Linked DNA regions of Homo sapiens. The protein of the gene in region 1 purifies or fractionates together with the protein of each later gene. This does not show direct contact. Each region holds a gene or a part of one and is shown in the gene's direction. Other genes may lie near its edges.

Evidence for each region. The genes of interacting proteins can lie anywhere in the genome.
Region 2: the proteins of TMOD1 (region 1) and MYO5B purify together in Homo sapiens (affinity purification with mass spectrometry; 4 studies listed by BioGRID and IntAct, with this or other methods). This does not show direct contact.
Region 3: the proteins of TMOD1 (region 1) and LRRFIP1 purify together in Homo sapiens (affinity purification with mass spectrometry; 4 studies listed by BioGRID and IntAct, with this or other methods). This does not show direct contact.

What each region holds. Positions count from the first base shown.
Region 1 is NC_000009.12:97,539,645-97,546,668, forward strand, and holds part of TMOD1 (tropomodulin-1), read left to right. Parts: intron 1-6,540; coding exon 6,541-6,697; intron 6,698-7,024. UniProt on the Homo sapiens protein: Blocks the elongation and depolymerization of the actin filaments at the pointed end. The Tmod/TM complex contributes to the formation of the short actin protofilament, which in turn defines the geometry of the membrane skeleton.
Region 2 is NC_000018.10:50,192,138-50,199,168, reverse strand, and holds the start of MYO5B (unconventional myosin-Vb), read left to right. Parts: upstream 1-4,021; 5' UTR 4,022-4,375; coding exon 4,376-4,402; intron 4,403-7,031. UniProt on the Homo sapiens protein: May be involved in vesicular trafficking via its association with the CART complex. The CART complex is necessary for efficient transferrin receptor recycling but not for EGFR degradation.
Region 3 is NC_000002.12:237,623,733-237,630,596, forward strand, and holds the start of LRRFIP1 (leucine-rich repeat flightless-interacting protein 1), read left to right. Parts: upstream 1-3,854; 5' UTR 3,855-3,912; coding exon 3,913-4,008; intron 4,009-6,864.

The sequences.
Region 1 (7,024 bases):
TCACATAGCATACAATCATCCACTTAAAGTGCACCATTCAGCCCGGGTGAGGTGGCTCACGCCTGTAATCCCAGCACTTTGGGAGGCCGAGGCGGGCGGATCACGAGGTCAGGAGATCGAGACCATCCTGGCTAACATGGTGAAACCCCGTCTTTACTAAAAATACAAAAAATTAGCCGAGCATGGTGGCAGGCGCCTGTAGTCCCAGCTACTCAGGAGGCTGAGGCAGGAGAATGGCGTGAACCTGGAGGTGGGGAGCGGAGCTTGCAGTGAACCGAGATCATGCCACTGCACTCCAGCCTGGGCAACAGAGTGAGACTCTGTCTCAAAAAAAAAAAAAAAAAAAGAAAAGAAAAAAAGAAAAAGAAAACAAAAATGCGCCATTCATTGGTTTGTTCTTTTAGCATATTCACAGAGTCGTATAACCATCATGATCAATTTTAGAACATTTTCATCACCTCAAAAAGAAACCTCATGCCCATTAGCTGTCACTCTCCATCTCCCTTCAACCTTCCCAGCTGTATTAACCTGTTTAGGCTGCTCTAACAAAATACCACAGACTAGGTGGCTTAAACAACAGAGACTTATTTTTGCACAATTCCGGAGGCTTAGAAGTCCCAGATCAGGGTCTTGAGGGGTTAGTTTCTGGTAAAGACTTTCTTGCTGGCTTACAGACAACAGCTTCTCTCTGTGTGTTCTCACGGTGACTGGTTGGGGAAGGAGGTGTTGCAGCAGCTCTCTGGTATCTCTTCTTATAGGGACACCAATCCTATCAGATCAGGGTTCCACCCTTATGACCTCATTTGACTTTAATGATCTCCTTACAGGCCCTGTCTCCAATTATAGTCACTCTGGGGGTGAGGGCTTCAACGTATGAGTTGGAGGCACACATTCCAGTCCATAACACCAGCCCTAGGCAACCACTAATCTACTTTCTGTCTCTACAGATTTGACTGTTCTGTACGTTTCATATATTGTATGGAATTGTATAATACATGGCCTTTTGTATCTGGCTTCTTACACTTAGTATGATGTTTTCAAGGGTCATTCACGTTGTAGTACTACGTTTTTTTTCACAGCTGATAATATTCAATTGTATGGGTATACCACATTTGTCTTATCCATTCATTAGCTGGTGAACATTAGACTTGTTCGTACTTTTGTTATTATGAATAATGCTGTTATAAATGTTCGTGTACAAGCATTTGGGTGGACATACATCTGCTGCATCATATGGTAACTTTATGTTTAACTTTTTGAGAAATTGCACAACTATTTTCCAAAAGGGTTGTATCATTTTACATTCCTACCAGCAGTGTATGAGAGTTCTAGTTGCTCTATATTCTCATCAGTACTTGTTATTATCTGTGTTTTTTTATTATTGCCATCCTGCTGGCTGTGAAATGGTATCTCATTCTGGATTTGATTTGCATTTCCCTAATGGATAATAGTATTGAGCATTTTTTCATGAGCTTTTTGGCCATTTTTATATAATCTTTGGAAAAATGTCTATCCAGATCACTTGCCCATTTTAAAAAATTTATTTATTTTTATTTTTATTTTTTTGAGATGGAGCTCTGTCACCCAGGCTGGAGTGCATTGGCACAATCTCAGCTCACTGCAATCTCTGCCTCCTAAGTTCAAAGGATCCTCCCACCTTAGCCTCACGTGTAGCTGGGACTGCAGATGTGCGCCACCATGCCCGGCTAATTTTTGTATTTTTAGTAGAGACGGGGTTTCGCCATGTTGGCCAGGCTGGTCTGGAACTCCTGACCTCAGGTGATCTGCCTGCTTCAGCCTCCCAAAAGTGCTGAGATTACAGGCATGGGCCACTGTGCCCAGCCACTTGACCATTTTTATTTTTTATTTTTTATTTTTTATTTTTTTTTTTGAGACAGTCTCACTCTGTTGATCAGGCTGGAGTCTAGCGGCGTGATCTCAGCTCACTGCAACCTCTGCCTCCTGAGTTCAAACAAATTTCATGTCTCAGCCTCCTGAGTAGCTGGGATTACAGGCATGCACCACCACGCCCGGCTAATTTTTGTATTTTTAGTGGAGACAGGGTTTCACCATGTTGGCCAGGCTGGTCTCAAACTCCTGACCTCAGGTGACCCACCCACCTTGGCCTCCCAAAGTGCTGGGATTACAGGTGTGAGTCACCACGCCTGGCCCATTTTTAAATTGGGTTATTTGTCATATATTATTGAGTTGTAAGAGATTTTTATGTATTCTAGATATGAAACTCTTATGAGATACATGATTTACAAATATTTCCTCCCAATCTGTGGTTTGTCTTCTCACTAGTGTCCTTCGCAGCACAAATGTTTTTAATTTTAATGAAGTCCAAGTAATCTACTTTTTTATTTTGTTGCTTATTGCTTTGATATCTTATCTAAGAAACCATTGCCTAATCCAGAATCAGAAGGATTTATGCCTATGTTTTCTTCCAAATGTTTTATAGTGTAGTTCTTATATCTAGGTCTTTGATTCACTTTGAGTTTTTATATATAATGGGAGATCACATGCTGTTTTTGAAAACGAGTTAAAGTGGTAAACAATCAGGAGTTTAAAAATATGCATCTATCTTTGGTTTTACTGACAATCATGTGATATTTTGTTAAACATACCATTTAATAGAAAGAAAACAAACTTTAACCTCTAATGAGGCTGATATTCTCAATATTTACTTTAAAAATGTGATAAGCTTAGAGTTATTAGAAAAGGCCTTTGACATTTTTGTTTTTACAAATCAACTGCTTTCAATAAAGACTTGAATAAATGAAGCCATATTTTTATGTTATGTAAATAATATTTTTGAAATACATTAAAAAATCTGTATTATATAACATGTTATAATTATATGGCTTTTTGTTTAATGCAGTGGCTCTCAATCAGGGGCAATTTTGCCCCTCAAAGGAAATTTGGTGGCTGGGCATGGAGGCTAATGCCTATAATTCCAGCACTTTGGGAGGCCGAGGCTGGTGGATCACCTGAGGTCAGGAGTTCAAGACCAGCCTGACCAACATGGTGAAACCCCGCCTCTACTAGAAATACAAAAATTAGCCGGGCATGGTGGTGGGCATCTGTAGTCCCAGCTACTGGGGAGGCTGAGACAGAATTGCTTGAACCCGGGAGGCAGAAGTTGCAGTGAGCCGAGATCACGCCACTGCACTCCAGCCTGGGCAACAAAGTGAGACTCCATCTCAAAAAAAAAAAAAAAAAAGGAAGAAAATAAAAGAAATGTGGCAATGTTTGGAGACATTTTTGGTTGTCACAACTGGGGGCAGTGCTACTAGCATCTAGGAGATAGAGAGCAGAAAGGCTGCTAAACAATCTCCAGTGGGTAGAGTGGCCTCCACAACAAGGAAGTGTCCAGCCCAGAATGTCAGTTGTGCTGAGGTTGAGAAACTCTGCTTTAACTAAATCCGTGGCCTCTACCAGATAGATTCGAAAAGAGATGAGAGTTTGCAAACCCTTCTCCCCTCAGTTACAACCCCTGAATTTCTTCTATCGCAATACTTAGCCTTTCTGGGGCCAGAACATGCCCCAGCATCTTACTGCCATTAAAACCCTTTATGGTAATGAAAATCTGTAGGCCTTCCCTGTGGGGATCCTTAAGAAGCATGAGCACTTGCTTTCACTGCTTAATTCATTTTATAATTGTGTGTTTTAGTTTTTTGAATTTATATTTGGATAATACATTCCCTGTTAAACATACATATTTGGGTAACCAATCTCCTATTAACATATATTCTACCTGATTATATAACAATAGAAGGGATCATAAGTAATAATTTTTGACCGTTTACTATGTTAGGCACTGTGCTGAGCACATTTTCTGCATTATCTAGTTTAATTTTCTCAACCACTCTATGAGAGAGCAACTCTCATTATTCACATTTTACAGCCATGGAAACTGAGGCACAATGAGATTTAGGGGACTTGCCCAAGATTGTGTAGTTGTATCATTATTACTCCAAGTCAGGGCTTAAGCCTGATGTAGGGTCAACTGTGAAGTGCAGGCATGTCACAAAGACTTTGGATTATTCATTATGGGTAGTCACACATTGATGTTTGCAGGGCAGTGAGGTATTGTCTCACTCTCTTGCATCACCATAAGCTCCCTGCTGTGGAAGAGAAGGCGTGGGCACACACAGCTAGCTACAGGAAGTCCCATCAAACCTGGGACATGCCCACAGAAGCATGGCTCACCTGGGAGCATCACCTGTCCTGCCTATCATGGTGGACAATATCTGAGAACTGCTGCTTAAGGAAAAGTGGGATGTGTGGAGCATCACTTATGTTCCTGATGCCCCCCACCCCAAAGTCAGTCAGGCCTTGATTTTCTACCTACTGTCCTCTCATAAAAAGCTCCAACTCCCAGTGTCTCTTTTGATCTGTGGCCTAAATCTCTCTGCAAGTACACCAGCACCACCTGCCAAGCCCATTATCTGTCTGTCCGGGCTCTGTGCTGGGTGGGCCCTGCTCACTTACAGCCCTCCCAGAGGCAGGATCACACCCCGGTCTCCTGATCTTACAGCCACTACTCTTACTGAAACAGCACTGTGGTGTTATGCATAGTACACCTTTTAAAAAATGATGCATTAGTTAGGCCAGATGTGGTGGTTCATGCCTGTAATCCCAGGGCTTAGGAAGGCCGAGGTGGGTGGATCATGAGGTCAGGAGTTCAAGACCAGCCTAGCCAATATGGTGAAACCCTGTCTTTACTAAAAATACAAAAATTAGCCAGGTGTGGTGGCATGCGCCTGTAGTCCCAGCTACTCGGGAGGCTGAGGCAGAAGAATTGCTTGAACCCGGGAGGTGGAGGTTGCATTGAGCCGAGATCACACCACTGCACTCCAGCCTTGGTGACAGAGAAAGACTCTGTCTCAAAAAAAAAAAGTAAAAAAAATTAAAAAGATTCCTTAAACAGTAGTATTCCCTCCCAAGCTGTATCCCTCTATGTGCCAGGCATACAGTGATCTTCATATCCCTGATAACAGTCCCCTCACAGAGGCAGCTTTCAGAAAAGGATATGGAGTTTGTGACAGTGACTGAAGATATGCATTTTAATGGTACAAAGATTGAAAGTGGGGCTGGGAACGGTAATCCCAGCACTTTGGGAGGCCAAGGCAGGCAGATCACTTGAGTTTGGGAGTTCGAGATCAGCCTGGCCAATATGGTGAAACACTGTCTCTATTAAAAATACAAAAAATTAGCCGGGCGTGGTGTCAGGCACCTGTAATCCCAGCCACTCAGGAGGCTGAGGCAGGAGAATCGCTTGAACCTGGGAGGCAGAGGTTGCAGTGAGCCGAGATTGCGCCACTGCATTCCAGCCTGGGTGCAACAGAGCGAGAGTCCATCTCAAAAAAAAAAAAAAAAAGGTTGGAGGTGGAATGACTCTTCAGTTTAGTCAGTTTGAGGGTGCATATCTTTTGGGTGATGTTCTGCCCATACCAGCCACCCATGTATTCCTCTAGCTCTGCAAATGCAGGGAACAGGGAGCACACAACGATTAGAAATGGTCATCCTCCTCTCGTAAATCTGAAGAAGAACGCTGGTTTTTGTTCTAGATCTGTCCTGAAATTCCTTGGGCAAATCTTTCCTTGCTCTGTGCCTCAGTTCCCCTAATGGGAGAGTGTGTGCACTGATGATCTCTAAGCATCCTTGCAGCTATAAACTTCTTTGACTCCCTAAGGTACTGGGGGCTGAGTTAAAGTGAAGCCCATGAGGATAACTCCAATCCCCCCAATAGGAATCTGCTTTAGCAGTAAGCCCACACCTAGAAGCCTGCTTATGTTTGAAGAAGAGAAGGGAACAATTGGTTGATGTTATGTTTCTTGAGATACCCATCTCCAGGGGCGACGTTCAAAATATTTAACCACCAGTGTGTTGTGAGCACAGACCCGTCAGGAGGTTAGAAGGCAGCGGGTAGGGCCAGCAGGGACTGTGGCCAGAGAGCATGCCCCGTCCTCCTCTTAGCTCTGCAGGGCACTGCTCACCTCGCTGCTTTCCTGGGCCTTTCTCCAGCTTTTTTTTTGGTCTGCCTCTTCCTGCCTGATTCTCCATCCAGGGCCCCAGCTTAACCCTCTTTTGGCTTCTTCTCTCTCCGGAGCCACCTGATACTCAACTCAACTCCTGTGAATATCTTTATGCATCCAAACAACAACTCAATCATATTCATCACTCAGCAGATGCTCTTTCAGTGCCCTCTGTGCTCAGACTGGAGTCGGCTGCCTTGACCCCTCACCTCCTCTCCTTCAAAAATGTTAGAGGCAGGGATGGGCTGGAGGATTGAGACCTGAGTCCTAGCCTCTCTCTGCCCCTTGTCTGCCTTTGACCTTGGACAAGTCCCTCCCTGTCCTGGGGTTTCAGATTCCTTACTTGTAAAACGAGGAACACCATGGATTCCATGAGCTCTGAGGTCCCTTCTGTTCGATGATGAGTTTCTGGAGAAGTGCAAGTCTTCAGCAGCTGACCACTCTCTCTTTCTCTCTCTCTCTTTCTCTCTCTCCTGCCCCCCCACAACCTCCAATGTAGAATGCACTGCTGCCTGCAGGCCTGAGGCAGAAGGATCAGACCACCAAGGCGCCCACGGGCCCCTTTAAAAGAGAGGAGCTCTTGGATCACTTGGAAAAGCAAGCAAAGGAGTTTAAGGACCGAGAAGATCTGGTCCCCTACACAGGGGAAAAACGAGGTACTGAACAATGTTACTGTTATAATATGCCACTCCCCATGCACCATTGAGTGCCGACTGTATGCCAGGCCCTGCCAGGCCCTGTGTTGGGCCAAATGTGACTGGGCCTCCTTGTCCTCATCCCTGCCTGGCCAAAACACCCAAACCCAACTTCAAAAGCATCTATGGATGATGTAGATTTCATGAAGTTTTGGGGGTAGACTGAGGAAAGACTCCTATCCACTCAAATCAGCAAAACTTTTCCCTAAACCCTCTTTCACTAGGATGTCCTGATTATTTTTTTACGCAAACCTAAACAGTTTTGAGAGTAAAAGAAGAAACTGTTAA
Region 2 (7,031 bases), on another chromosome or scaffold:
TCAGCCTCCCAAGTAGCTGGGTCTGCAGGCATGCTAATTTTTGTATTTTTAGTAGAGATGGGGTTTCACCATGTGGGCCAGGCTGGTTGTGAACTCCTGACCTCAAGTGATCCGCCTCAGCCTCCCAAAGTGCTGGGATTACAGGTATGAGCCACTGTGTCCAGCCCATAAGAAAATAATTTTAACTGTCACTGTATAGTTTATAAACCGCTTTCACAGAAGGGCCAGTGAATAAGAAGCCTTCTTCTTAGTGGAATCCCTCCTCTCTTTCTTTGCTTATGCAAATTTTTCTGTTTAGTAATCCCTTTATTTTCTCTTTTCCACTAATTAATGAGCAGTACTTCCTTTAAGACTTGGCTCAAAACATATCTCTATTTACCTACTATTTACTGTGATCAACTTTGTGCAAGTCATGTTCTAGGAAGTGCAGAGGACACAAATATGGATCAGGTGTGGTCCCTGCCCTCAAGACTCTTAGAACCTAGTGGTGAGGAGGAGAAAGGGATATTAGTTCACATATCATACAGGGTGCAAATGAATGCCTTGGAAGTTCACTTTTTATTATTTGTGTGAGGGAAATCCTCACCTGTCAGGAAGGAGACTAAGGCATTTCCAACAGGTATCTTCTTTTTACTTTGAGAAGCCGTGGAGCACAGAGCAATGTTTCTCAAAGTGTGGGCCCTACACCACCTGGGATATGTATTAAATTTGCAGACTCATAGGCCGGGCATGGTGGCTCACGTCTGTCATCCCAGCACTTTGGGGGCCAAGGTGGGCAGATCACCTGAGGTTGATCCATCTCTGCTAAACCCCGTCTCTACTAAAAATACAAAATCAGCCAGGCATGGTGGCGCATGCCTATAATCCCAGTTACTCGGGAGGCTGAGGCAGGAGAATCGCTTGAACCCGGGAGGCGGAGGTTGCGGTGAGCTGAGATGGCACCACTGCACTCCAGCCTGAGCAGCAAGAGCAAAACTCCATCTCAAAAAAAAAAAAAAAAAAAAATTCAGACTCATTGATCATGTCTCTGACCAACTGAATTAACATCCCCTGATAGCCCCTTAATCCTGGTACACACTGAAGTTCAACATCCATTGACATAAAAAGCAAGGGTTAGACGCTCGAGTGAGACTTTAATTGAACAGTAGCTGTCTGACCTAGAGTGTTTTTCACACCCTTCTTCCCTAAGCCTCACTTTGCCCATCTGTGAAACAGCCTTAATATTCTGAACCTCCTTTATAAGGTTGCTCTGAGGCTTCAACAGGATCACAGAAGTAAAGCGCTTGGTATGTTTCCTGGATCAAGTAAGTTTTAAAATGTCTTTATTGTTCAAAGGAGGGAAACACCATATCTGATTGTGGAATTAGAAATTCACAAAGCTCTGGCCAAGTGTAGGACTCAGGAATGCGATTCAGTTCAGTTAACATGAATTGAGCTTTTCATTTGTGCCAGGTGTGATGGAAGCCAGACAGTTGGAACCAGTTACGGGTGGGGAGAAAGGATGGAAACAAATGAATGTCAGGTTGGTCCGAGGTCCAAGTGGCATTGTTACCATTGCCTATCTGCAGGTGGAAAGGTGGATCTTGAGTAAGGTTAGAATTAGATTTGAGAATTAGCATTGTGAGCAAGAGACAAAATGGGGGCGTGGCTGAGAAGAAAGATGAGATCTCTGAAATGGAGCATAGTTTTATTCAGAAACCAGGAAGAGGACGCAGGCCTAGAAAATAATGTTGAGAAGGTTTGGTTAGAGAGGCTGAGAAAACAAGAGAAAAATAGTACTCAGGGAAGAGATGGTTTAACGTAATGGGTTGAATCAATTCCCACCCCATGCTTCACAGTGATGAGGCAATTTCAATAGGATAGGTCTGAGTGGAAGCCAAATAAGAAGAAATTAGAACAGCAACATTTATTTATTTATTTATTTATTTATTTATTATTTTTTAAAGATGGAGTCTTGTTCTGTCACCCAGGCTGGAGTGCAGTGGTGTGGTCTCGGCTCACTGCAACCTCCACCTCCCAGGTTCAAGCGATTCTCCTGCCTCAGCCTTCCAAGTAGCTAGGATTACAGGCATGCGCCACCACGCCCAGCTAATTTTTGTACTTTTAGTAGAGACGGGGTTTCACCATGTTAGCCAGGCTGGTCTTGAACTCCTGACTTCAAGTGATCGGCCCACATTGGCCTCCCGAAGTGCTGGGATTATAGGCATGAGCCACCACACCCGGCCAGAACAGCAGCTCTTAAACTTGGCTGCCATTAGAACCATCTGGGAGCTCTTCAGAATCCTTTCACCCAGGGCAACACCCCCCAGACAAGTTAAATCAGAATTTCTGGGAGTGGGAACCAGACATCCACTTGTTTCAAAAGTGATTCTGATGTGCATAAAGTGTTGAGAATCAGAGAATTAAGGAGGTACTGGGCGTAAGTGGAGATAGCTAAATAAGTGAAGCTACTGCTTTAAGAAGTTTAGCAGGAGAGGAAAACACAAAAAGCCAGGGGCCAGTGGAGAGAGGAAGAGTTGCTGGTAGAGAGATGGGACCACTAATGGTGGTGGAGGAAGAGGCCAGGATCTAGGCAGGACTGATGACTTTCTTATTCAAAAAGGGGAGAATCACCTGGAGGCAGAAAGAACAATGAGTACTGGCCCCACACCAGAGTTTATGGTTCAGTAGGTCTGCAGTGGAGCCCAATAACTTGTATTTCTAACAGTTACCAGGTGATGCTGATGGTGGGCGTGGGGGGTGGGGACACACTTTAAGAGCTACAGGAATCCGGGGAAGGGAAATATGCAGAAAAACTTTTGAGGAAGAGAAAAAAATCCCTTTCTGCTCTTGCCACTGATGTGAAGAGTTCCATTTTTAGGTCCAATGAGAGCCGCCCAAGCTTTGGTCAATGCATTTGTCACCCTGGAAGTACCATCCTTTAGACTTTCAGAGGAGCTTTAAAAATTGGGATACCCAGGTCCCATCCTTCATTATATCAGAATTCCTTGGGTTGGGGCCTCTTCCTTGGAACGCTTAAAGCTCCCCATGTGACTCTCATTGTGGAGGTGCCCATGGGAAGGCCTGCACAGGTGAATTACAACGGGATCTTGAGTTCCAGGTGGGATGCCTCTGAGAATCACCTTCTGGGGCTCTTGAACAACTGCCCCGGCTGGTACAGATATATCTTCCGGTTGAGAACCACTTTTCAGGGGCCACCCCTGGGTCAGGGACAGATGTCAGCTTCAGAAGGGAGTGTCTCCTCTGACAGCCCCTCGTCTCCCTCCACAGACTTCTGGCAGTTTTTTTTTTTTTTTCTTGGTTGAAATTTCTACTTTTCACTGGAAGTAGGAGAGGAGCTGAAGTTGCTGCAGGCAGCCAAGTGCCATGGTCAGAGAGGGAACACAAATAAACGAGGTAGTGAGTGGCAAAAGGACCCGGAGTCTGCATGTAGACGAGACGGGGGTTGGGAGAACGTGAGACTTCCCGGAAAAGCAGAAGCCCTCTGAGATGAGTGGCCTGGAGTCTCCTTGGAGGCTGTGGGCGAAAGTGGACAATATTTGTACAGAAGGAGTTACGACTCCCACTTTACTGACAAGGATTTCCGCGCAGAGAGTTCAGTTTGAAGGAGAAGATCCCTGGTGTATGTATATCCAGGTCGCCTTAATAACGATCTACGAGTAACTGAATTTTAATCATGAAAGCGCTGAATACAGCCAGGTAAAATCGAGGGCAATGTCTGGGGCCTTCCAGCCATAGACGCTTCTCTTTTTTCCCCCCTCTCTGGTTAGTTCCTCTTCCCTTTTCTTGTCTGCACCGCGTTCATGCCGGACTCCGCGGGGCCCGGTGCGGGTGGAAGCGGAGCGCGGCAGGGCAGGTGCGGGCGCCGGGGCGCACCTGTGCCTGCGCGCGCGCGGCGTCCAGCAGGGGGCGGCCCGCGCCGGTCCCGGAGCTCCTCTCTGAGCGCCCCGCCCCCGGCCCGGAGGCCCAGGTGGCAGCGGGGGCGCGGGAGGGCGCGTCGGGCCGGGCACCGGCAGGGCTCAGAGGCGCGGCGGCGCACGGGCCGTCCGCTCTGACGCGAGCGGGTCCTCCCTCCTCGCCGGCCCTCGCCTCCTCCCCACACCTGGGAGGGGAGTGGTGCGGCGCGGCCTCCTCCCCCGGCGCTCGCAACTCCTGTCCGGCCGTAGCTGCGCCGCCGCGGCGGGAGTAAAGGTCGCGCCGCCGGGAGCGAGCCGGCCGCGGCGCCTGCGGGAAGCCGGCGGGGCAGGTCGGAGAAGAGCGAGAAGATCGAGAAACTCCAGGCCAGCCCGGGAACATGGCGCCAGGCGGGCCAGCCGCGGACTGAGAGCCGCGGGGCAGCCAGGAGCCGGGGCCCGAGCCCCGCCCGGCCCGGGCCATGTCGGTGGGCGAGCTCTACAGCCAGGTGAGCGCGGCCGCGAGGGAGGCGCCCCGGGGCCGGGGTGGCGCGCTCGGGGCCACCTAGTACTCAGGGTCGCCTTCTCCCTCGGCTACTGGAGGCGGGAGGTGACGGGAGACCCCCCTCCGCGGTGTCCTCCTCGTCACTGTCCTCGGAGTCCCTAACTTCGGTTGGCGGAGAAAGTTTGGCGGTTCCGGGAACGCCCGCACTGACCGGCCACCCGGCTCCTAGAGGTTCCGCAGCGCCACGGCTCAGCACCAAGCCAGGGCTGTCGCCCCCTCCCCGCCGCGCCCCTCACTTTCGTTGCCTGGGCTCGGCTCCAACCGAGTTCCCCGAACGGCAGGGCGACCCTGCCAGCTCTGAGCGCCGTGCGCGGGACGGGCCCCCGCGGTGCTCCCGCTGCTGTCCCCTGTCCCCGCCGTGGACCCCACCCCAGGGGCTCTGCGGCGCCGGCTCTCGAGGGCGCGCCTCCGAGGCGTCCTTTCCTCCCGCATACCCACAACAGGGAACCCTGGACTTGGGAGAGGTGGGGGTTCTGGACTTGGTGGAGAGGGAGGAGACAACCTGGCGTGAGGGCGCGGCGGCTGGATGGAGTGAGGGTAAGCAATGGGTAGAGGGGTGCGCCGTTATCTCCGGAGACCCCAGGGAAGAGCATTGTGAATTTGCTGGGGATGGATGTTTTGACGCGGCCTCTTTGGTACAAAGAGGGCTTCAGTGACTGCGGGGAGGGGGTTGGAGTAAAGTCGAACCGGGAGCAGGGTGTGAGTTTCAGGATGCCTTCAAGGTCAGAAGGGATGTGTGAGGCTGGGTGCTCCGAATCGGGAACAGGTGCAGCCCGGGCGGAGACGCCCGCGTTCCGCAGCAGTTGCTGTGGTTAAAGTTAGGGACAAGCCACCGCTTCCAGGGGAGCTCGCGGCAGCGCTGCAGCCGCCCGGGACCCCTCGAGTTTCAACCTGGAGTCAGTAGTGAGAGGGGCAAAGGCCTTTTCTTCACATGTGCCCTATGCACCTTTAAGAAAACAAGTTTTGGATAGTCCAATGCCTGGTTTTCCTGTTCGTCTTCTTGGGTGGCCAAAACACGTTTAACAGTGCCTATGCACACGCCTCCATGCAGAGTTGTGTGTGCGTGTGGTGTCCACGCGCGTTGCGTGGGTATGCGATTCCCGGGACACCCGCCCGGGCCAACAGGTCTGGGCTGGGTAGGAACAGTCACTTCCGCGTCCTTACCTGGCGATCACACGCGGCTGTCTAGCCCATGTGGGAGCCCTTCGGCTCCGTGGGCTGGCCACCCTTCTAAGTTTGAGGAATTATTCAACTCTCCCATTCCTCCTGGAGGGGAGCAGGGCCGGGATGAGTTCATGCTCAGGAAGGTGGCCGCGGAGGCTGTCACCTGGCTGGGGGTGGGGCCGCAGCAGCCTCAAATACAGCTTCCGAGCCCACCAGGGGCCACCTGTGCAGCGATCAGGGATGGGCGACGGCCTCTGGGGGAGGAGGGGAGGAGGTGGGAGCCAGGGCGTGAACTCTGTGACAGTCCTGGCCCTGGAACGGCACCCCACCCCTCTTAGCTGTGGAGGTATTGGGAGGATCCCTAAAAGCTCAGCTTTCAGTTCTTTCACTGAAGCCGGTTAGGTTTTCAGGAGCTGGGACTGGAGGCTGGAAGCCAGTGAGGCAGGGGAAAAATCTGAACTGGAGTGCTCAAAGAGCCGAAGCTTTGTTACATTAAAGTGCATGGAGATACAACTTGTGCTCCTAAGTAAAAGGAGTGACTCAACTGAATATACCTACAATGTGTCAAAGTCCTTTGTCAGGCAATATTGAATTGCTGTATTATATGAGGGGGAAAGTTTGTGGGGGAAAAATGGAGTTAAAAGATTAAAAATATAAACTTTATTTCTCAACACAGTTTCCATCAAGTTCAAGACACTTTTTTAAGTTATACCAGCCACTTAGTTCGTCCCTAAAGAACTGAGGGTCCTGGGAATTTAACCATGTCAATGCAGTCTCTTTTACATTATTAACTGGAAAAGATGCAGGTCATTTAGTTCAAGATTAGGACACAAAGTCAGAAGGAGCCAAATCAGGACTGTGAGGTGGACGCCTAATAGTTTTCCACAGAAACTCTTGCAAAATTGCTCTTCTTTGAGAGGAATGAGAAGGAGCATTGTTGTGGCAGAAAAGGACTTTCTGGTGAAGTTTCCTGGGTGTTTTTCTGCTAAAGCTTTGGCTTCCTAAAGACACTCATAATAAGCAGATGTCTTCATCATTTGGCCTTCTAGAAAGACAACAAGCAAAATGGCTTGAGCATTCCCCCAAAATGTTGCTGTGATCTCTGCTCTGAACCAGTCCATCTTTGCTGTGACTGGACCTCTTCCACCTCTTGGCAGTCTTTGCTTTGATTGGGCTTTGTCTTCAGGATTGTACTGGGAGAGCCACATTTCATCCCGTTACAATTCAAAGAAATGCTTCAGGGTCTTGATCTCACTTGTTTAGAATTTCCATCGAAAGCTCTGCTGTTGTCTGCAGTTGATCTGGGTGCAGCAGTTTTGGTATCCATCAAGTGCGAACTTTGCTCAACTTTGTTTTCGGTCAGAATCATGTAAGCTGAACCAATTGAGATGTCTGTGGTGTTGGCTATT
Region 3 (6,864 bases), on another chromosome or scaffold:
AAGGTTTTTACTCCAAAAAACATGAAAAAGTTACTGGAAGTGATGGTGTCCTGGGAAGGAAGAGGCATTTATTGGGGCAGGCATCATCCACTGATTTATTTTGGAAGTGCTGTGATTGAGCTACTGAAAGATGCACCTGAAAACGTCCAGCAGGACAAAGGAGACACCATTCACCTCCTGAGCAACACATAGACCCTGACCTCAGCCAGCCCCACTTCTGGGCAGAGTGCTGGCTCCAAGTTCCATGCGTGAGAGATGGCTCTCCTCTACGGGTCCTTCAGCATTCCTGGGGGGGGGCTGCAGTTCTCCTGCCCTGCTCCAGCTGTAATCCAAAGCAGGGCTTTCCATCCTCTGGGAACTGGAAGAGCAAGGCTGGAGTGCTGGTGAAAGAGGTTTGAGGTAGGCCCACGCGGATGATGCTCTCAATGGACCCAGAGTGAGTCACGTTATGGCCCACATGATGGCTCAGATGGCTCTCTGCCTGAGAAGCTCTGAGTCCTCATGCAGACTGGACGCCCCTCCGTAGCTGCTCATCAACTTCCTTTCCCAGCCAGCCCCCAGGGCTTGCCCACTGAGCTCCTGAACCAAGGCAAACTTGCGCTGGGGACGGCGCCGCTGTGTGGTTTCCCTTGCCAAGGCTTCCCTGGCTGCCTCCACTTTCTCGTGGAGGCTTCCTGAAGGTGGCATCTGTATTTTTGTGAAGGGACTTGGTACCAGGCTTGGAGATGAACATGTTAATTCTCTGGCCCTGGACATCAGATCTGTGATATAGTTTCTCAATTTCCTGCTCTGAAGTAAGCCCTGGTGGGTAGTGTCACCATCTGGAATAGGAAAAGGGCTAGATGGGAGGGGTCAGTAGTGCTGGTGGCAGAGGCCAGTCTTCTCAGTGGAAACAGGCTCATGCACTTCCACGCAGGGAGGGCCGACGGTCAAGGGTGGAGGAAAAGCCACAATTTTTCGGTGAACCCATGGATCAGCATGATGGAGTCTTGCAGGTCTTTATCTTCCTCCAGGAGGCACCCCAAGCACGGAGAAGACCCACCAAGCTGCCTGATACCTCTGTCTAGCTCCCCTCTGCCCAGACAGGAACTGCTGTTCACCATTCATTCCAGACCTGGGCCTTTGAGGACAGGAGCTGTAAGGATGATTGATCGATTGCCTGTGTGTGAAGCCCTGGAAGGGCTCTTGCCTAGAATACTGTCCCTACCCTGACAAGGTAGAGGCCATGGTCTGGATGGCGGTGGCCCCCCCATTCATATGTCAAAACCTAACCCTCAATGCAAGGTGGGGCCTGCAGGTGACCAGGTCCTGAAGCAGAGACCTCATGAACGCGATGAGTGCCCTTACACAAAAGCCTGGAGGGAGCCCGTCTTCCACCATGAGATGACACACAGAAGGCACCATCTGTGAGGAATGGGCCTCAACCAGACACTGATTCTGCTGGAGGCTTGATGCTGGACTTCCCAGCCTCCACAGCTGTGAACAATACATTTCCGTGGTTTTATAAATGACCCTGTCTAAGGCGTTCTGTTACAGCAGCACAAAGGAACTAAGACAGTGGGCACCCGTATTTCCATTTAGAGGCGGAAACTGACTCTGAAGTGAGAACCGGTCCACTCTGAGAGCACATCGCCAGGGGAAGAGGACTGTAGCCAGGAAGTTGTTATGTCATGGGGTCATGGGAGGACCCAGCAATGTTGTTTCTGATGATTTCTGAAAGGCGGCTCTTTTCTGGAAGTGGACAGATGATGGGGGAGGGGCAGGAAGCTGAATTCACCACAGTGTCCGAGAACACTGTCTACCAGCGGGAGCTGTTCAGACACACCTCTGGCCAGTCCCCACGGCAGTGAATCTCCTGTCTCTGGACAACAATCCAACAGGGAAAGTGGGGAGGAGGGTTGGGAACTGAACTCTGTTCCACAAGTTCAACCACTGCACTCCACTAAGCAACTGGCACAGCCAGTCCCTGGTGAAGGCTTAAAGATGAGGAAGATGGGGTCAGCGCCTGCCCTCCTGGCCTCAACACATCAGGATGGAGGATTTAGGTGTTAGCAAAAAGTGGCTCAAAGTTCCAATGAAGGACAGGGAGCAAAGGGAGACTTCTTTTAGAAAGGAGACGTTGGAACTTGGATATGGCTTTAGTTAAGGAGCTCCAGGCATCTCAAGTCAGCCCTGAGAGGCAGCAGCCGTGTCTGCCTCTCGGACAGCTATGCCCCAGCCTCCAGCTCAGCAGCTGGCAGGCAGCAGGTGTGGGTGCAGGAATGAGTGAACTCATGGGGACCAGCCTCGGCAAAGACGCACAGTCCCCACAGTGCCCCAGGGGCTGGGAAACAGTGAGCAGCCACCAGCAAGACCAAGGCAGTGCAAGTGGCCACGGCTCAAGGTTTCCCCCAAGGAGGACTATGTCACTTAAGGAGTATGGCCTCTGAAGTAATGTAAATATGGCCTGGAAGATTCAGTCAACACCTATTTCCTTAGTGCCTACAATGTGCAGGTGCAGTTTCTGCTCCCGGAGTTCAGTCATGAACAATGCCACAGTCAGCCCTGCCAACCCACCTGCGTCAGCTCAGGCACCCAGAGCAATGTCACCTGGATCTGCCCTCCCTCCCATGTCACTGGACTCGCTGTCTTTTCCCTGCAATGAAACCTCCAACAGCTTTCCCTGCCACTGTGGGTGGAAGGGCCCTCTTCCTCTTCCCACCTTCATACAGCTTCCAGGCCACCTCCTTAAGAATCCAAAGCAATCTGGTCACACCACTTGGTGGGAAATACACCGAAATGTTAACTGTCCTTATCACTGGGGGAAAAAAATCACAGGTGACTTCAGTACAGCCTCCTCTCCTCTACCATCACTACCCTCCCTCCCATCCTTCCCCAGGTCCAGCCACACTGAAGTTCTCCCCATACCCCAAACACACCAGTAACTTTCCCACCCGGTGCTCCTGCCGTGCCCTAGGCAGGGGCTTTTAACCCCTACCTAATCCTCCGATTTGCTTTACTTTTAAATCCACCTCTGGAGCATAGACTGTGAGCTTCAGAGAGCACAGGTAAGTTCATTACTTTTTCAACAACTAGGAGAGAGCTGCGACGCACCTGCCCCGATCCTAGAGGCTGGGGACCCACCAGAGAAGTGACAAGTCCTTGATCTCAGGGGGCAGACAGCGGGGAGAAGGATGGATGCTAGCACGGAGAACACGCGTGTAAAGACAGAAACGCACACATCCACACCATGCCGCTGTGAAGCCGGCGCCCAGGAGGCTGGCCAAGGTCACAGGAGCGGCGGTGGCGGGCGGATCCGAGCACCTCTCGGCCTGACCCCAGAGCCTAGCTCTCACCCCGGCGAGGGACTTCCACCCCGACTCACCGCGGAATGGGGAGCGCCAGGCTGAACCAAATCCTGTGCTCACCCCTCCGTGCAAACCCCTCAAGGCAACTCAGGCCTCTGAAAGCCTTCCTACCCCCCCGCTCTCCGCTCAGGTCCCCACTCAACCGGTGCCCACCGCCCTGGCGCGCGTCGCTCCGCGATTACCGGCCCGCCAAACAGTCCCCGCAAAGTCCACCCTCCGGGGCTCCCGGTCCCTCAGGTCCCGCGTGCCCGGCCCTGGGCATCCGCAGCGTCCCCGTGGTATCGGACCCCCATCGTCCCTGACACCTGGCGTCTCCGCCCCCCGCCCCCGTCCCCCGCCCCGCCGTCCCTGGCCCCTGCAGTCCCTGGCCCGCGCTGCGGACCTCCGGCTCTGGCTTCCCCCGGGTCCCCGCGGCCCCCGTCCCCCCGCGTCCCCGCGTCCCCGGCCCAGCGCCCGCTGACGCCATGACGCCGCGGCGGAGGGAGGGGCCGGGGCCGGGGCCGGGCCGGGGCGGCGCGAGCGGCTGGAGCAACGGGCCCCGCGGCAGCTGCGGGCGACGCGGTCGATGGACATGGGCACCCAGGGATCGGGGCGCAAGCGGCTCCCCAACCGGGAGCGGCTCACGGCGGAGGACGACGCGCTCAACCAGATCGCGCGGGAGGTGAGCGCTCCGGGAGGGCAGCCGGGGGGCGCCGGGCGGGCGCGGGGGCCGGACGGCTGTCAGGGTCTCTCCGGCGTCCGTCTGTCCCGCTGTGCGTCTGTGCCACTGCGCGTCCGGCTCCAGGCGGGTGGGCCGGGCAGGCGCGCGCCGGGGCGCTGATCCCCAGGCGCTGCGCCCCGGCCCCGATCTCCGAGGCCTGCGGACCCCGCACCCGTTCTCCAGCCCCGGGCCCAGCCCGCGACGCTGCGCGCCCTCCCCCACCCCGGCCACCGTCGGCCGCTGCGCCCTCGGGAGAGGAGCCGGGCGCCGCCAGCGCGCGAGGTGGCCCGGGCTGGCCGGGTGGGGGCGAGCGCCCCGCTTTGTTGTGCGGCATGGGAGGAGGCGGGGGCTTAGGCCCGACCTGGAGGCAGTGGACGGTCGCCGGAGGCCACATGGCCCTGCTGAAATGGCCGAGTCGCTCAGGTGACCATTTGTCATCCATCCATCGATGTCACTCAAGGTGCAGCTCAGAGATGAACTTGGGGATCACTGTGATTTTTCTTTCAGGACTGAGCCTGGAAACGGGTCCAGGCACACTGAAACGTCTTCATTAAAGTTTCCTGGACAGAGTTTATTGTAACTAAGATCATGTTTGGTGATGAACTTTACCTGTGACAAATTGAAGGCGCACTAGAATGGGTATTTGTACAAATGCCTTTTTTTTTTTCCTTCCGCAAGGATTCTACCTTAAGGCTAAAGAATGTACATGACATCCAGAAAGCCGTACAGGGACAGAGAGCAGCAGCTTGGGAAAAGGGGAGCCAATAGGTTGCGGCCCCAGGGGGACAAAGGAAGCTTAATTTTTGACTGTGTTCCCTTTGTACCATTTGAACTGTGTGCCAGGTGGGTGTATGAATGCAAAGAAAGTCTCTGCCTTGTAACCCGCCTTACAGGTTCTTTTCCGTGTTGGCTTTTCCACATGTGATTCTTCCCACAGGAAACACCTCCAAGCCATTTGGACTGTGGTGTCTGGCTGTATCCGTCAGATATTCTGGGGGATCTACTCTGTAACCAATCCTTAGGTGTTTGTAGTTGTAAATACCTGATTTTGCTCTTACGGACATGTGGCAGTCACTCAGTATTTGTTGACTACTGAGTGAATAAAGACTTCTGTTTTTCTCTGTATGATACAGAAAAGGGCTTTCCAGGCAAACCCTTATTCATTCCTGGAAGCCCACTGTGACCTCCAGGAGACCTTCCAGACTCAGCCCTCTCACATCGCACCAGGCCTAAGTCTCCCTGGCTCCACGGCCCTCCATGGCATGCCCGCGCCTGGCATGGCAGTCAGGATACCTTATCATTATTTGTCCACCTGTAGAAGGTGACACCCAGACAGGAAATATCTTACTTTTGTATCCCAAGAGCTCAGCACAGAGCCAGGCACATACTAGGTGTTTGTCTATGTCTGTTACATTAATTAATAAACAAAAGAAGTACAAGGCATTTAAAGGACCTTTGGCTAAATATAGACATTTGCTAAATATAGTAGCTTGAGTATAACTCCCTCCTGTGAAGACAGTCACTTATGTATGCATTTGACCACAGTGCCTTACAAGTGTTCCCTGCAAGGGCCAGAGGTGGCCAGTGAATCGCAAGCCTTGTCTTGATGTCAGTGGTTATGGGGCAGAAGAATGAGAAGAATGAAAATTTCCAGAGTTTGCCTTTTATCCACTGGTGTTTCTTTCTTCTTTTTTTTTTTTTTTTTTTTTTTTAACACAGTCTCACTCTGTTGCCCAGGCTGGAGTACAGTGGTATGATCTCGGCTCACTGCAACCTCCACCTCCCAGGCTCAAGAGATCCTCCTGCCTCAGCCTCACCAGTAGCTGGGATTACAGGCACGCACCACCACACCCGGCTAATTTTTGTATTTTTAATAGAGACGGGGTTTCACCGTGTTGGCCAGGCTGGTCTCAAACTCCTGGCCTCAAGTGATCTTCCCGCCTTGGCCTCTCAAAGTGCTGGGATTACAGGCGTAAGCCACTGCGCCCAGCCTATCTGCTGGTTTTTATAAAATAGATTGAAAAGGAAGGCAAGGGAACACTCCTTGGGTTGAGAGCCCTGAGGTCCTCCCTCCCACCGAGGGAGATGCAGTTGGAGTTACAGAGATAGACTTGTGAGTCAGAGCTGGGCTTTCAAATGACATAGTTCTTAGCCAGCTGTGCCATCCTAGGAAGGTGAGTTACTCACTCTTCTCTGGGCCTCTGTTTTCTCGTCTCTAAAATGGAGAAGAAGAAACCTCCCCTGGCTGTCAGAATTAAAGAAAGTGGGTAGCAATGTAAAGTATGTAACTAGGCGGTGGGTAAATATGAGAGCTTCTTACACGCCCCTCCCGGTAAAACCCAGCCGTAGGTGCAGCTGTTACTAGTGCTGAGTAGCACAGATTGATAGGGTTGGAGGGAGCAGGTGTGACATCTTATGTTTTAGTACAAATTAACTTCTATTTCTCAACTGTGAAAATGAAAATCACTATTCAAATGGCAAATATCTACTCCTTGAATTCATCAGGGTTCTTATAGAAATCAACAAAATCGTCTTGGGTTCAGTACTTTCTTATTCACTCATTGACTCAACAGATACAAGCCATGGTATCCAAATTCCTGTCCTGGGGAGACTGGAGAGTCAGGGAGGAACCCGGCGAGGACCTGCCTGCCCTCCAGGAGTTGGGTCAGAAAGGGGTTGACACCTGTAGATCAATAATGCTAACCGAAGACAGGAAGGGATCTGATATAAAAAGGGCGTAGACAGTGTTCTGAAGGTTTGGACATGAGAGAGAATCACAGCCGGCCAGTGGTCTCAGAAGTGGCTTCCTGGAGGAAG